Linked DNA regions of Homo sapiens. The protein of the gene in region 2 interacts with the protein of the main gene of each other region in a pairwise test. Each region holds a gene or a part of one and is shown on either strand. Other genes may lie near its edges.

Region 1 (7,101 bases), on a different chromosome or scaffold from region 2:
CCCCGCATGCCCAGCTGCCCTGTCCCGCTGCCCTCCAAGTTGTGCCCGCCCGTCCACCCCTTCCTCACCTCACCCACCAGGCGCAACACAGCCCAGCATAGGGCCCCTGCCAGGTGTCGGTGTCAGCAGCCCCTTCCCTGCCTGCTGTGCCCCCCCCACATGACCTCACCTCCTCCCTCAGCCCTAACCGGGTGGGTGGCACAGAGGGGAGTGAGGAAAGGGGCCTGGGTACAGGATCAGTCTGGACGGGGTCAGGAGTCTGGGGCTTGGCCGGGTGAGGCGGCTCACTCCTGTAATACCAGCATCTGGGGAGGCCAAGCAGGAGGATCGCTTAAGCCCAAGGGTTCAAGACCAGCCTGGGCAACATAGTGAGACCCCCATCTCTATTTTTTTAAAAAAAGAAAAGGCTAGGCACGGTGGCTGACACCAGTAATCCCAGCACTTTGGGAGGCCAAGGCGGGTGCATCACCTGAGGTCAGGAGTTCAAGACCAGCCTGGGCAACATGGTGAAACCCCGTCTCCACTAAAATACAAAAGTTAGTCAGGCATGATGGCGGGCACCTGTAATCCCAGCTACTCGGGAGGCTGAGACGGGAGAATCACTTGAATCTGGGAGACAGTGGTTGCAGTGAGCTGAGATCGTCGCGCCACCGTACTCCAGCCTGGGCGGCTGAGCAAGACTCCATCTCAAAAAAATAAAAATGACCAGGGCTGGAATCCTGCTGTCAGACTCACTGTCCACATGACCTTGGGCATACAGTGCTGAACCTCCCTGTGCCTCAGTTTCCCCATCTGTAAGAGCACTGAGCTTACAATGGCAGTGAGGACACAGACCAGGGGGATGGGGTGCAGGGCCCTTCCTGGTGTTCAGATGGAGGCTTGTGGCAGGAGCTCTGCCACATCAGGCCACCCCCCATCCGGGTTTATGTGTCTGGAGGGCACAGCTCTGAGGGTCTCAGTGGTCAGCGTGCATTCTCTCCCCCAAGACTGGCCCCACTACCCCCAGGCTTCACCATCCTCAGGGCCCAGGGAAGAGAGCTTGTCCCCACCAGGGACAACAGATCCAAAGTGTTCACTGCCCGTGCCCTGGTGGCCACAAACAGGGTTGAGCAAGACTGAGCACAAACTGGCCCCTGGTGCCCAGCAGTGAACAGGAGTGACTGTTGACCCTGCACAGAGGGGACTATGCTGAGCGCAAGAAGCCAGTCCCAAGGCTGCATACTGAAAGCCTGCACTGATAGGACATTCTTGAAATGACCAGACAGAGCCGGAGAGATGAGTGGTTGCAGGGCTAGGGAGAGGTGGGAGGGAGCAGCGTGGCTGTAAAGAACATGTCAGGGTCCCGTGGGGGTGGCACTGCCTTGCGTCTGTATCGACGTCAAGGTCCTGGCGTGATTCTGCACTGCAGTCCTGCAAGATGCTACCACTGGGGATGCTGGATAGAGGGTAACGGGACCTCTGTGTTACTTCTTACAACTGCAGATGAATCTATACTTATCTTAAAAGTAAAAGTTTAACTTTATTATTATTATTATTATTTTCGAGACAGGCCTCTGTCTTATTGCACCCAGGCTGGAGTGCAGTGGCACAATCTCGGCTCACTGCAACCTCCACCTCCTGGGTTCAAGCGATTCTCCTGCCTCAGCCTCCTGAGTAGCTGGGACTACAGGCGCCCACCACCACGTCCAGCTAATTTTTTTTTTTTTTTTGAGACAGAGTCTCGCTCTGTCGCCCAGGCTGGAGTGCAGTGGCGTGATCTCGGCTCACTGCAAGCTCCACCTTCCAGGTTCACGCCATTCTCCTGCCTCAGTCTCCCGAGTAGCTGGGACTACAGGCGCCTGCCACCACTCCCAGCTAGTGTTTTGTATTTTTAGTAGAGACGGGGTTTCACCATGGTCTCGATCACGTCCAGCTAATTTTTGTATTGTTAGTAGAGACTGGGTCTTACTATGTTGGCCAGGCTGGTCTTGAACTCCTGACCTCAGGTGATCTGCTTGCCTCAGCCTCCCGAAGTGCTGGGATTATAGGCGTGAGCCACTGCGCCCAGCCATTATTATTCTTTTTAGAGACACAGGGTCTCCCTCTGTCACCCAGGCTGGAGTGCAGTGGCACCATCTTGGCTCACTGCAGCCTCATCCTCCCAGGCTCAGGTGATCCTCCGGCCTCAGCTTTCCAAGTAGCTGAGACCACAGGTGCACACCACCACACCCAGCTAATTTTTCAAATTATTTGTAGAGACAGGGGTCTCCCTGTGTTGCCGAGGCTGGTCTCAAACTTCTGGCCTCAAGGGATCCTCTCACCTTGGCCTCTCAAAGTGCTGAGGTTATGGGCCTGCGCCACCGAGCCTGGCCAAAAGTTTAACTTTAAAAAATTAGATTAGAAATCAGAAATTGAAAGAAAGGGGGTAGGGTGGAGCCCAGGAGAGGGGAGACATCCAGGACCTGCCTGGCCCCAAAAGAGAAGGGGAGGCTGCTCTGCCCCCACCCCGCTTCTCCGTCAGTGGGCTGCAGGGCCGGGGGTAAGGGGTCTAACTCCTACTGCTTCCCAACCCTCCGCGTCAGACAGCACCCCCTTCTCCAAACAACCCCGGCTTTGTCCCCTGGAGCCCTAAATAACAATAACAATAGCTGGCATTTATTGAGTTCCAGCCCAGGCAGGGAGGGCAGGGCAGAAACAGCACCCAACAGGACTGGGTGCAAGGCTCACACCTGTAATCCGGAAGGATCAGAAAGACCCAGGTGGGAGGATCACTTGAGCCCCGGGGGTGAAGACTGCCGCATGGGTGACAGAGCAAGACGCTATCTCAAAAAAAAAACCACCCACATCCACCCACTTCCTGCCAGGCCTAACCCCTGGGGCCTCCATGCACCAAGGGAAAGCTCTTCCAGGGTGGGGTCACCGGGAGGAGGGGGGAGGCTCAAGTTACAGAACAGCCTGGTAGGGGCTCAAAGACGCCCATCCTGGAAGAGGCCCCAGCACTGACCTCCGTGGGGGTGGAGATGAGGAGGATGGAAAGGGTGTCTTCCTCCAGCATCTTCCTGAAGGTGAAGGAGGGGCACCTTGGGGTGTCTAAGATTGTGACCCCAGGAGACCCCCAGCTAGCTGGGGTGTGCTGTGGGGGAACGGGGGGATCCCAGAGGCCCTGAGCCCAACTGAACAGATACAGACGGGACCAGATGGCCTCAGAGCTCCCCTGCGGGGCTCCCTGGAGCTATGGAGACCCCATTTATCCAGAGTCAGGTCGGTGCCTGAGCTTGGGCAGCCCCAGGTGGAAGGAGCCCATGGTGGGAGGAGCCTGTAGTGGGAGGAGCCTGTAGTGGGAGGAGCCTATGATGGGAGGGGCCGTGGTGGGGGGAGCCCGCGGTGGGAGGAGCCTGCGCTGGGAGGAGCCTGTGGTGGGAAGACCCTGTGGTGGGAGGGGCCGTAGTAGGGGAGCCCGCGGTGGGAGGAGCCTGCTCTGGGAGGAGCCTGTGGTGGGAGGGGCCGTGGTGGGGGGAGCCCGCGGTGGGAGGAGCCTATGATGGGAGGGGCCGTTGCGGGGGAGGGGGGAGCCCATGGTGGGAGGAGCCTGTGGTTGAGGAGCCTGCGGTGGGGGGAGCCTGCGGTGGGAGGAGCCTGTAATGGGTGGCATCTGTAATGGGCGGGGCCTTGCTGGGCAGAGCCCGCGGCGGGGGAAGCCGCCCCTCTCCTCTGTCCAGGCGCTGGGTGGTCCATCCGCCTGGTCACCGGCCACTGCCTCTCTCCCAAATTCCTCCGAGGGATTCCCGAGGAGTGCGCTCGGACTGGGGGGTTGAGCAGGAACTCCCTCCCAGTCACCCGAGGCTCCTGCGCCCCGCCCGAAGCCGGGGGTGCGTGGGGAGTGGTGCGCCCGCGGAAGGGCTCCGGGACGGGAACCCCCCTTGGAGCCTGGCTCTTGGACCAGCCACCCGCCGTGGCCCCTCAGTCGGGGACGCGGGCCCCCAGAAGTCTGGGGCTCTCCAGGAAGCGAAGCGGATGGAAGATTACTCGGCTCGGGGTCCCGGGTCCCCACCCCCGCCCCGCCCCCGGGCCGCAGCGTCACAAAGGCCGCTGGTCCCCAGGGCAACCCGCGGAGTGCGGAGGGAGGCTGGGCTCTGGGAAGTCCGCGCGCGGCTCCGCTTCAGAGGCAGGGCAAGTGGGCGCGGTCCTGGGGCGGCGGCGGGGGCCGGGAGAGGAGGGCTGGGGGTCTCGAGAAGGTAAGGGGCAGGCAGAGCGGCCGGGGAGGTGGGCCCGGGCCAGGGGAGCCAAGGGGAGTGTGGTGGAGGGGGTAGAGTGCGGGCACCTGGTGGTCTCAGGGAAGCGGGCCTGGGACCGGGGCGTGTAGGAAGCAGCGAGGGGCTCAGAACCACCTTTCCGGGTTCACGACCAGCCTCTCTGGGTGTTCCACCTGGGCAGCTGCTGGAGACTAGAAAACATCCCTCACACGTCACAGAGGCACGGTTTCCCTCCAGCGGTGAAATCCGCCCCAGCCTCCAGCAAGAGCAGGGCTTAGGCCTGGGGTCCTGGGGTCCTGCTCTCAGCTGGCACCTCACCCCAGACACACTCCCTGCTGCCCCCAGGGGCCTGTTCTCGAGGGATTCCCGAGGAGTGCGCTCGTGAAGTCATATCTGCCTCACGCCCAAAAGGGCAACCCTTCCCGGGCAGATATGACTTCACCACGTACCTGTGTGGCCCTGGGGAACTCAGCAACTGCTTAGCTCTCATTTGTGGGTCGTCCAAGGCCCAAGTGGCTGTGACAACCTGAGATCTCCAGGGTTGCTGGGAGCCGGGGCAGCAACCAGGGGTGCGGCTTGCTCTCCAGGGAGCTGCGGCAGAGCCTGGGGCCACAGCTGCACTCAGCCGGTGCACCCACGGACAGAGGGTCAGACTCGGCTCAGCACTGGGCTCAAGCCCTGGATGAGAACAAGAACCAAGCTTCTTAGCCTCAGGCTCCATCTGGGAAATGGAGTGTCACTTGTGGAGTCCATGAGCTCACCAGGGACAGGATCCCGGGTCCACAGCGAGGGCCCACAGCGTGGGAGGAGGGCTGCTCCTCCGGGCCCAGGCCTGGGCGCCCTCCTCCCATGCTGACCAGCCAGCTGGCCTCGTCTTTGGTGAGGCCTGTCTCTGTGCCCTACAACTGCGGTGAGGCGTGGAGCGTCCCCAGGGAGAACCGGAGCGGGAGGATGGCCCGCGAATGTCCCCGAGGGGGATCCTGTGCTGCTTAGGACCACGCCGTCCCCTCTCCACGGCCCCGAGGGGTGCCAGCAACCCCTTTCAGCAGCAGGGTTAGGAACTGGGGCCCTTGCAAGGCCACAGGTCAGGCGGTTCTGGCCAGAAGTCCGCAGTCCTAGTTCTTCCCTGTCCTGTCCCACAGGCCACTGGTTGTCAGTAGAGGTTTTTGCCCCTCAGTATAAACTGTGTCCAGATCTGTAGGCTGCCCATCCAGCCCTCCAGGCAGCCTCTTCCCATCGAGTTGTGCCCCCGAAGAAGGACAGAGGTCCAGCATGGGGTCAGTGGGCTGAATCCATCCCCCGAACATGCCACAGCCCAGGGGAGGCCAGCCTGCCTGGCAGCTGACACCCAGCCCTCCCCCCAGCTCCCGGATAATGAGCACCCATGTGGCAGGCCTGGGCCTGGACAAGATGAAGCTGGGCAATCCCCAGTCCTTCCTGGACCAGGAGGAGGCAGATGACCAGCAGCTGCTGGAACCAGAGGCGTGGAAGACCTACACCGAGCGCCGCAATGCCCTGCGTGAGTTCCTGACCTCGGACCTGAGTCCGCACCTGCTCAAGCGCCACCACGCCCGCATGCAGCTGCTGCGTAAGTGCTCCTACTACATCGAGGTCCTGCCCAAGCACCTGGCCCTGGGCGACCAGAACCCGCTGGTGCTGCCTAGCGCCTTGTTCCAGCTCATCGACCCCTGGAAGTTCCAGCGCATGAAGAAGGTGGGCACAGCTCAGACCAAGATCCAGCTCCTGCTGCTCGGGGACCTGTTGGAACAGCTCGACCATGGCCGTGCTGAGCTGGATGCCCTGCTCCGGTCGCCAGACCCACGGCCCTTCCTGGCCGACTGGGCGCTGGTGGAGCGGCGGCTGGCGGACGTGTCGGCCGTCATGGACAGCTTCCTGACCATGATGGTGCCGGGGCGGCTACACGTCAAGCACCGCCTGGTGTCTGATGTCAGTGCCACCAAGATCCCGCACATCTGGCTCATGCTGAGCACCAAGATGCCTGTCGTGTTTGACCGAAAGGCGTCGGCGGCTCACCAGGACTGGGCCCGGCTGCGCTGGTTCGTCACCATCCAGCCAGCCACATCGGAGCAGTATGAGTTGCGCTTCAGGCTGCTGGACCCGCGGACACAGCAGGAGTGCGCCCAGTGTGGCGTCATCCCCGTGGCTGCCTGCACCTTCGACGTCCGAAACCTGCTGCCCAACCGATCCTATAAGTTCACCATCAAGAGGGCCGAGACCTCCACGCTGGTGTACGAGCCCTGGAGGGACAGCCTCACCCTGCACACCAAGCCGGAGCCCCTGGAGGGGCCCGCCCTCAGCCACTCTGTCTGAGAGATGATTTTCTAATATTTATCCACTAATAAAGAAGAGTGTAAATGCACATATGGAATTAAAGAAGCAAACCTATTTATGTTTTAAAGGCAGCAGCCACCAGTGTTTTTCCTGGCTCAAAACATGCCAAGCCCCAGGCCTTCTGCTCCTGCTCTTTCCCAGGGGGAGCCACAGGCCGGACCTCCCAAGACAGCTGAGCCTGGAGCAAGAAGTACCAGCCCCTGACACCTACGGGTCCAACGACGACGACAAAAGCTGCTCCACGGGGCCTCTGCGGTCCTAGCCCCCGCCCCTCCTCACCACCCCCATCACCGTGACCGGGCTCCGGCCTTCCTTACCCACCTCCCTGGCTTGTGGGGCTCCCTCAGGGAATGACACTCCTAGGCCGTGATGCCTCCCACCATCCCCTGCCCAGCCTCGAGTGCTCATCAGCACGCCCGCCCGAGGAGGCAGCAGCACCACCGGGGATCCCTGGCTGTGAGCAGCTCAGCCGTGCCCCTCCATGCCCCGCCCCACCTTTTGTTCCTCAAGGGCCTTC
Region 2 (7,213 bases):
CGCACGGGAGCCCTGCCGGGGAGACAGACAGGGTGCCGGGGCAGCTCCGCTTTCAACCAAAGGGCACTGGGGCCGGACGGCTGGACCTTCCTTGCGGGTCACTTTTGCAGAGTGGAGGAGGGAACCTAGCGCAGGAATACGCTCTTTCTTCCACGTTAATCCGACTGCAGCGATGCCGCACGTGTCAACATACAGGTTTGCGAGTGAGCACGGCATTTTTGCAGGGCTGTACCTGACAAGTGCCTTTAGTTTTTTTTTTTTTTTTTTTTTGAGACAGAGTTTCGCTCTGTCACCCAGGCTGCAGTGCAATGGCGTGATCTCAGCTCACTGCAACCTCCGCCTCCCGGGTTCAAGCGATCTTCCTGCCTCAGCTTCCTCAGTAGCTGGGATCACAGGCACCTGCCATCACGCCTGGCTAATTTTTGTATTTTTAGTAGAGACAGGGTTTCACCATGTTGGTCAGGCTGGTCTCGAACTCCTGACTTCAGGTGATCCACCCGCCTTGGCCTCCCAAAGTGCTGGGATGACAGGCGTGAGTCACCGCGCCCAGCCTGACAATGCCTCTGTCATCGCAGGGGCTTGTTGTTCCTGTCCTAAGAGTTTCCCAAGCACCTGCCACGTGGGAAAGCTGCGTAGATCTTTTCTGGGGATGAAGCCTACATAGAAGAATCCACAAGTGGCCAGGCAGACCCCCCACTGCCAACCATCACAGCAGGACTCTCTGAATGCCACCTGAGCTTCATTCACTGCATTAAAGAAGCCAAACAGGACCTCCATCTGACTAAAGCCAGCTTTCCTATGGCTAAGAGGCACTGCACACTCTTCTCAAACTTTATGGTTTAAAATGAAGCCATGTGGAACGTCACAGGTGCATCCGTGATCTGTAAGCACGTCTGAAGAAGCATGGATTTCTCAATCCCTGGAACTTCTCAAAATGCCCATTGTGTCCAGTCACACCTGTGGGCAGAAAGGCCCAACTGGGCAAATATCACACACCTGTGCAAACATCAGGCAGTCGGTGTGGAGGCTTAGATGACCCAGAAGCCAGTCCCCAGGGTTCCTGTTGAGGTTGAATGCTCACACATACAGGCCCTTCCAGCTGCCACTCAGGAGGCCACCTCTGTGACTGGGTTGCCCAAAATGACAGCTGGGCTTTGTTAAAAGGTGTAATTGTGTCTCCAAGTGTCCAGTACAGTGCTCAGGAGGGTAAATATCAAAATGCACCACCCAGGCACGTTCAGAGTGTTGGGATACAGTCAGTGCAAGGAGGCATATTTCAATGATGACTATAGTGGGTTGAAAAGCGTCCTCCCCTACCAAAGAAAATCTGTATCCACCTGGTACTTGTGTATGGGACCTTGTTTGGAAAAAGGGTCTTTGCAGATGTATTAATAATGAAGGTAAGGATCTTTAGATGAGATTATTCTCAATTGAGGTGGTCCTAAATGCAGTGACCAGTGTCCTTAATAGAAGACAGATGAGGAGACACGGACACACAGGAGAAGACCACATGGAGACAGAGGCCGAGACTGGAGTGATGCGGCCACAAACCCAGAACGCCTGGAGCCCCCAGGAGCTGGGAGAGGCAGGAAGGATCCTCCTCTAGAGCCTCCACAATGAACTGGATAAAATCATGGTGGATTGAACAGTGGCCCGCAGAAAGATCTGTCCACAGCCTAAAGCCCAGGATGTGGAATGAGATCTTACTTGGTTATTAGAAATTTTGTAGATCTCATGAGTTAAGGATCTGGAGATGAGATCATCCGGGATTTGAGTGAGCCCTAAATGCAGTGACAGATGTCCTTATAAAAGACAGAAGAGGAGACACAGACACAGAGAAGGCCACATGGAGACAGAGGCAGAGACTAGAGTGATGATGTGGCTGGCCTGAAGCCCAGGGACGCCAGGAGCCCCCAGGAGCTGGGAGAGGCAGGAAGCACCCTCCGCGTAAGCCTCCGGAGGGAGCGCAGCCCTGAGACACTTTGATTACAGACTTCTGGCCTCCAGAACTGGGAGAGAATAAGCTATGGTTTTAAGCCCTCCGGTTTCTGGTACTTTATTAAAGCAAGGTATTCTGAAGGTTAATTTTGCCCGAAATAATGAGTGGAGGTCTTAGAAAGGCCCCCCGTCTTCACGGGCAGTCGCGGCCTGCGTTGCTGGCTTTCCGTCAACGGTGCCCGCCCAGTGCTTTTTAGGGAGACGCCGCCACGTGCCAGGTGAGCTGGGCATTGCCAGAGCCCAGCAGTGCCACTTCCCAAGACTGGGGTGCAAGGAGGGGGGTCCTGTGGCCAATGCCAGCACCCTGGTTTGTTCTAAGGTGCTGAGAGAATGAATAACATGACCGGGACTTCCACAAAACGAGGAACCCCCAAACTGCATCTTCTGCAGCCGAGTTAGGGTGGGGCCCCTGGATTACACAGTCAACGGAGGGGGAAAAGAATCTCAAGAGGCCTCCTAAGTCCGACCTGAGTGACAGGACACAGCTGTATCAGATCCTCCATCATCATCATCATCATATTATTATTTGGCTGAAACAGGTTTTGGTAATTGGGAGGAAAAGGTTTACATTCCATTATTATTATTTGTGCTATTGGGCTGAAAGAGGTCCCAGTCCTCAAACAAAAGTTTAAATTCTATTTATTATTATTATTATCATTATTATTATTATTATGTGGCTGAAAGCGGTTCTGGAACCTGAAGGAAAGGTTTCAATTCCATTATTATTATTATTTTTATTATTATGAAGATTAGGCTGGAAGAGGTCCCAGTACCAGTAACAAAGGTTTATATTCTAATTATTATTGTTACGGTTGTTATTATTATTAGGCTGAAAAAGGTCTCAGTACCTGTAGCAAAGATTTTTATGCTGGCACCAGGCACAGCGGCTCACGCCTGTACTCTCAGCACTTTGGGAGGCCAAGGTGGGTGGATCATCTGAGGTCAGGAGTTTGAGACCACCCTGGACAACATGGTGAAACCCCTCCTCTACTAAAAATACAAAATTAGCCGGGCGTGGTAGTGGCACATGCCTGTAGTCCCAGCTACTCGGGAGGCTGAGGCACGAGAATCGTTTGAACCCGGGAAGCAGAGGTTGCAGTGAGCCGAGATGGCGCCATTGCACTGTAGCCTGGGCAACAAGCGCAAAACTCCGTCTCAAAGAAAGAAGAAAACAAAAAAAAAGATATATATGCTATTATTACTATTGTTTTTAGGCTGGAAGAGGTCCCGATACCTGGAAGAAAAGTTTGTACTCGGTTATTATTATCTGTCTGAAAGAGGTCCTGAAAGCTGGAGCAAACATCCATATTCTATTATTATTATTATTATTGTGATTGTTTGACTGAAAGAAGTCCCAGTGCCTGGGGCCAAGGTTTATATTCTATTATCATTGCTGTTATTATTATTTGGCTGAAACAGGTCCTGGTACCTGTAGCAAAGGCTTATATTATTACATTATTATTATTATTAGGCTGGAAGAGGTCTCGACACCTGGAACAAAAATTTTCATTCTATCATTATTATTATTATTAGGCTGAAAGAGGTTCTAGAACCTGGAGCAAAGGTTTTTATTCTATTATTATTACTTTTGTTATTAGGCTGAAAGAGGTCCCAGTAACAGAACAAAAGTTTATATTCTATTTTATTACTATTTGGCTGAGAAAGGTGCCAGGACCTGTAGTAAAGGTTTATATTCTATGATTATTATTAGGCTGAAAGAAGTCCGGGTACCTGGAACAAAAGTTTATATTTTATTATTATTATTTAGCTGAAAAAGGTTCTGGCACTTCAGTCAAAGGTTTATGTTCTATTATTATCATTATTATTATTATTTGGCTCACAGGTGTCCCAGTACCTGGACCAAAGGTCTGTTTTCTATTAATACTATTCTTATTATTACTATTTGGCTGAAAAAAGGTTCTGGTACCTAGAGCCAAGTTTTATATTCCACTATTATTATTTGGTTGAAAGAGGTCCCAGTACCTAGAAGAAAAGTTTATATTCTATTATCATTATAATTATTATTACTGTCATTATTGTTGGTCTGAAAGAGGTCCTGGTACTGTGAACAAAGGTTTATATTCTATTATTATTCTTATTTGGCTGAAAGAGCTCCCAGGACCTGGAGCAAAGGTTTATATTCTATCATTATTATCATTATTACTACTGTTATTATTATTACTGGGCTGAAAGAGGTCACAGTACCCTGAACAAAGGTTTATATTCTATTGTCATTATTATTATTATTGTTATTATTTGGCTGAAAGACGTTCCAGGAGATGAAGCAAAGGTTTATATTCTATCATTATTATCATTATTACTATTATTATTATTATTACTGGGCTGAAAGAAGTCACAGTACCCTGAACAAAGGTTTATATTCTATTATCATTAATATTATTATTATTATTTGGCTGAAAGACGTTCCAGGACGTGAAGCAAAGGTTTATATTTTATCATTATTATCATTATTCCTATTGTTGTTATTATTATTGGGCTGAAAGACGCCCCAGTACCATGAACAAAGGTTTATATTCTATTATTATTAATATTATTGTTATTATTTAGGTGAACAAAGGTTTCTATTCTATTATGATGATCATCATTTGGCTGAAACAGGTCTAGTACCTGGAGTGAAGTTTTGTACTAAGAGCCAAAATTCCCAAACCCCTAACCAAGTGACTCCTGGAAGGAGAAACAAGAAGCTCCCTCCCACGTCTCCTGCTGTCAGAATTCCATGGGATTCCCAGGTAAAGAACCGTCCACACAGTAGGTGGGTTCCACCTGAACCCACGTAACAGCCACAGCAGAGCTGACCTTCTGCAGTGAGTACCCTCCTTCCTCCTTCCTCCTCCCTTGCAGCGCTTCCGAGCACACAAGGCCACGAATAAAGGTTGCTGTAAACCAGCCTCTCACTGCCTCATTCTTCAAGACTGGTGCAGCATCCCCAGTGCGGGGGGAGGGGGGTTTGGGGGGGACACTCCCCAAAACGCTCTCAGGGGGCCGGCGATTTCACGTTTCCAATTGCACATCCATGAGAGGCCAGTGGATGTGCCTCACATGACTCTTACCAGAACGACACGTCGCAAGAGACCAGTGTGAAGAAGCAGAGGAAGGAGCCAGCCGCCATCCGTCCCTTTATGGATGAGACTGACAAAACCCTAAAACTCAGCCACTCTTCTCCCTAGGTTTTTGTTATTTTGGAAATGACAATCATTTTTCTTTTAAAAAACATACAGCACATGGCCAAAGGGTACCAAGTTTCTGTTCGACAGGAGGAATCCGTTTCAGTGACCTACTGCACAGCGTGGTGGCGATAGTTAATAGTGTATTACATATTTCAAAATAGCTAAAAGAGGTTTTTATTTTTGTTTTTGTTTTTTTGTTTTTTTGGTTTTTTTGAGACGGAGTCTCGCCCTGTTGCCCAGGCTTGAGTGCAGTGGCGCAATCTTGGCTGACTGCAACCTCCACCTCCCAGGTTCACACCATTCTCCTGCCTCAGCCTCCCAAGTAGCTGGGACTACAGGCGCACACTGCCACACCCAGCTAATTTTTTGTATTTTAGTAGAGATGGGGTTCCACTGTATTGCCCAGACTGGTCTCAAACTCCTGAGCTCAGGCAATCCACCCGCCTCAGCCTCCCAAAGTGCTGGGATTATAGGCATGAGCCACCGCACCCGGCCCGCCAATAGAGATTTTAAATGTCTTGCGTGCAGTGTATACTGCTTGGGTGATGGGTGCACCAGAATCTCACAAATCACCACTAAAAAACTTACTCATGGAATCAAACACCACCTGTTCCCCAATAACCTATGGAAATAAAAAACAAAAATAGCTAAAAGAGATTTTAAATGTTCCCACCGCAAAGGAAAAATAGCGGGTGATAGATATTAGTTTAATTATTCCACAATGCAAACATACAGCAAAGCATCACACTGTGCCCCATAAGTGTACACATTTATATATTTATATAAAAATATCAATTGTTTTTATTTACATCTAAATTATATAAATATAACTTATTTGTATTTTATATTTATAGAAAAGTATAAATTATTCTAAAAATATATATATTTAATAAAAATAAAATATAAAAACAATAAATATATTACATACATTTTTGTATGTAACATGTAATTGGCCTGTTACCATTACTTTTAAATAGATTGTTAAATATGTTTTAAATTTCTGTTTTAATGTCTAACAGGATGACTTATTGACTGTTATAATCCACAAAAACAAAAACTGTCTGGGGTCCTCATTTTTTTTGAAAGAGATTCTATGATCAAGGAATTGGAGGCCGGGGGCAGGGGCTCACCCCTGTAATCCCAGCAATTTGGGATGCCAAGGTGGACTATCACCTGAGGTCAGGAGTTTGAGACCAGCCTGACCAACATGGAGAAACCCCATCTCACTAAAAATACAAAATGAGCCAGGCATGGTGGCACATGCCTGTAATCCCAGCTACTCGGGAGGCTGAGGCAGGAGAATCGCTTGAACCCGGGAGGCAGAGGTTGTGGTGAGCTGAGATCACGCCATTGCACTCCAGCCTGGGAAACAAAAGCGAAACTTGGTCTCAAGAAAAAGAAGAAGAAGTTGGAAAACTGCTGTTTTTACTTCTACCTGATTTCTAATAGCCACTGTTCACTACTCATAAAACCAACAAGAATTAACTTTCCCTTTACAGGTTAAAAAAAAAATAGTTTGAAAAGTAGGACTTCTATAAATAGCTTTGTAAGTGGGCCAGTTGGCATATTTTTTGTAAATACTCACTCCTGTGGTACAGCATTTACGAATCCATTTTGCATCCCAGAAAGTGAAGGAATATTCTGTGGCCTATTATTTACAATAGAACTTTTAAGAAAAATTCTGTGGCAGTATTGGAACTGGACTTGACTACAGGTACCATCAATTTTCTCTCCTTTGCAAAACTCATTGATGTATCAGAGAAAATGTAATTTCTAAACAGATCACCCTGTTATTAATACCGGTGGGTAGAGACTTTCTTTACTCAATATGATCATTTTCAACAGATTTCAGGCCATATCAATGTTCAAGTTTTGATGCCATATTAGGATATTAAATGCACTGATTAAATCATCTATTTTAAAATCCAACCAACAGATACAACTTACTGAATGGGCCGCATGGATATAGTCTTAAGAACACAGAGACAGACCCTCTTATGGGAATTCTCAATTTGCTTCTAAACCCC

Evidence for each region. Proteins that work in one complex are often made in the same cells at the same time.
Region 1: the proteins of ZBED1 (region 2) and FNDC11 interact in binary tests that used the Homo sapiens proteins (3 or more experiments, as listed by UniProt).

Annotation. Positions count from the first base shown.
Region 1 is NC_000020.11:63,550,058-63,557,158, forward strand, and holds FNDC11 (fibronectin type III domain-containing protein 11), read left to right. Parts: upstream 1-4,101; 5' UTR 4,102-4,149; exon of another isoform or gene 4,150-4,214; intron 4,215-4,285; exon of another isoform or gene 4,286-5,111; intron 5,112-5,117; exon of another isoform or gene 5,118-5,504; coding exon of another isoform or gene 5,505-5,509; exon of another isoform or gene 5,510-5,537; coding exon of another isoform or gene 5,538-5,606; coding exon 5,607-6,563; 3' UTR 6,564-6,638; downstream 6,639-7,101.
Region 2 is NC_000023.11:2,490,818-2,498,030, forward strand, and holds part of ZBED1 (E3 SUMO-protein ligase ZBED1), read right to left. Parts: intron 1-7,213.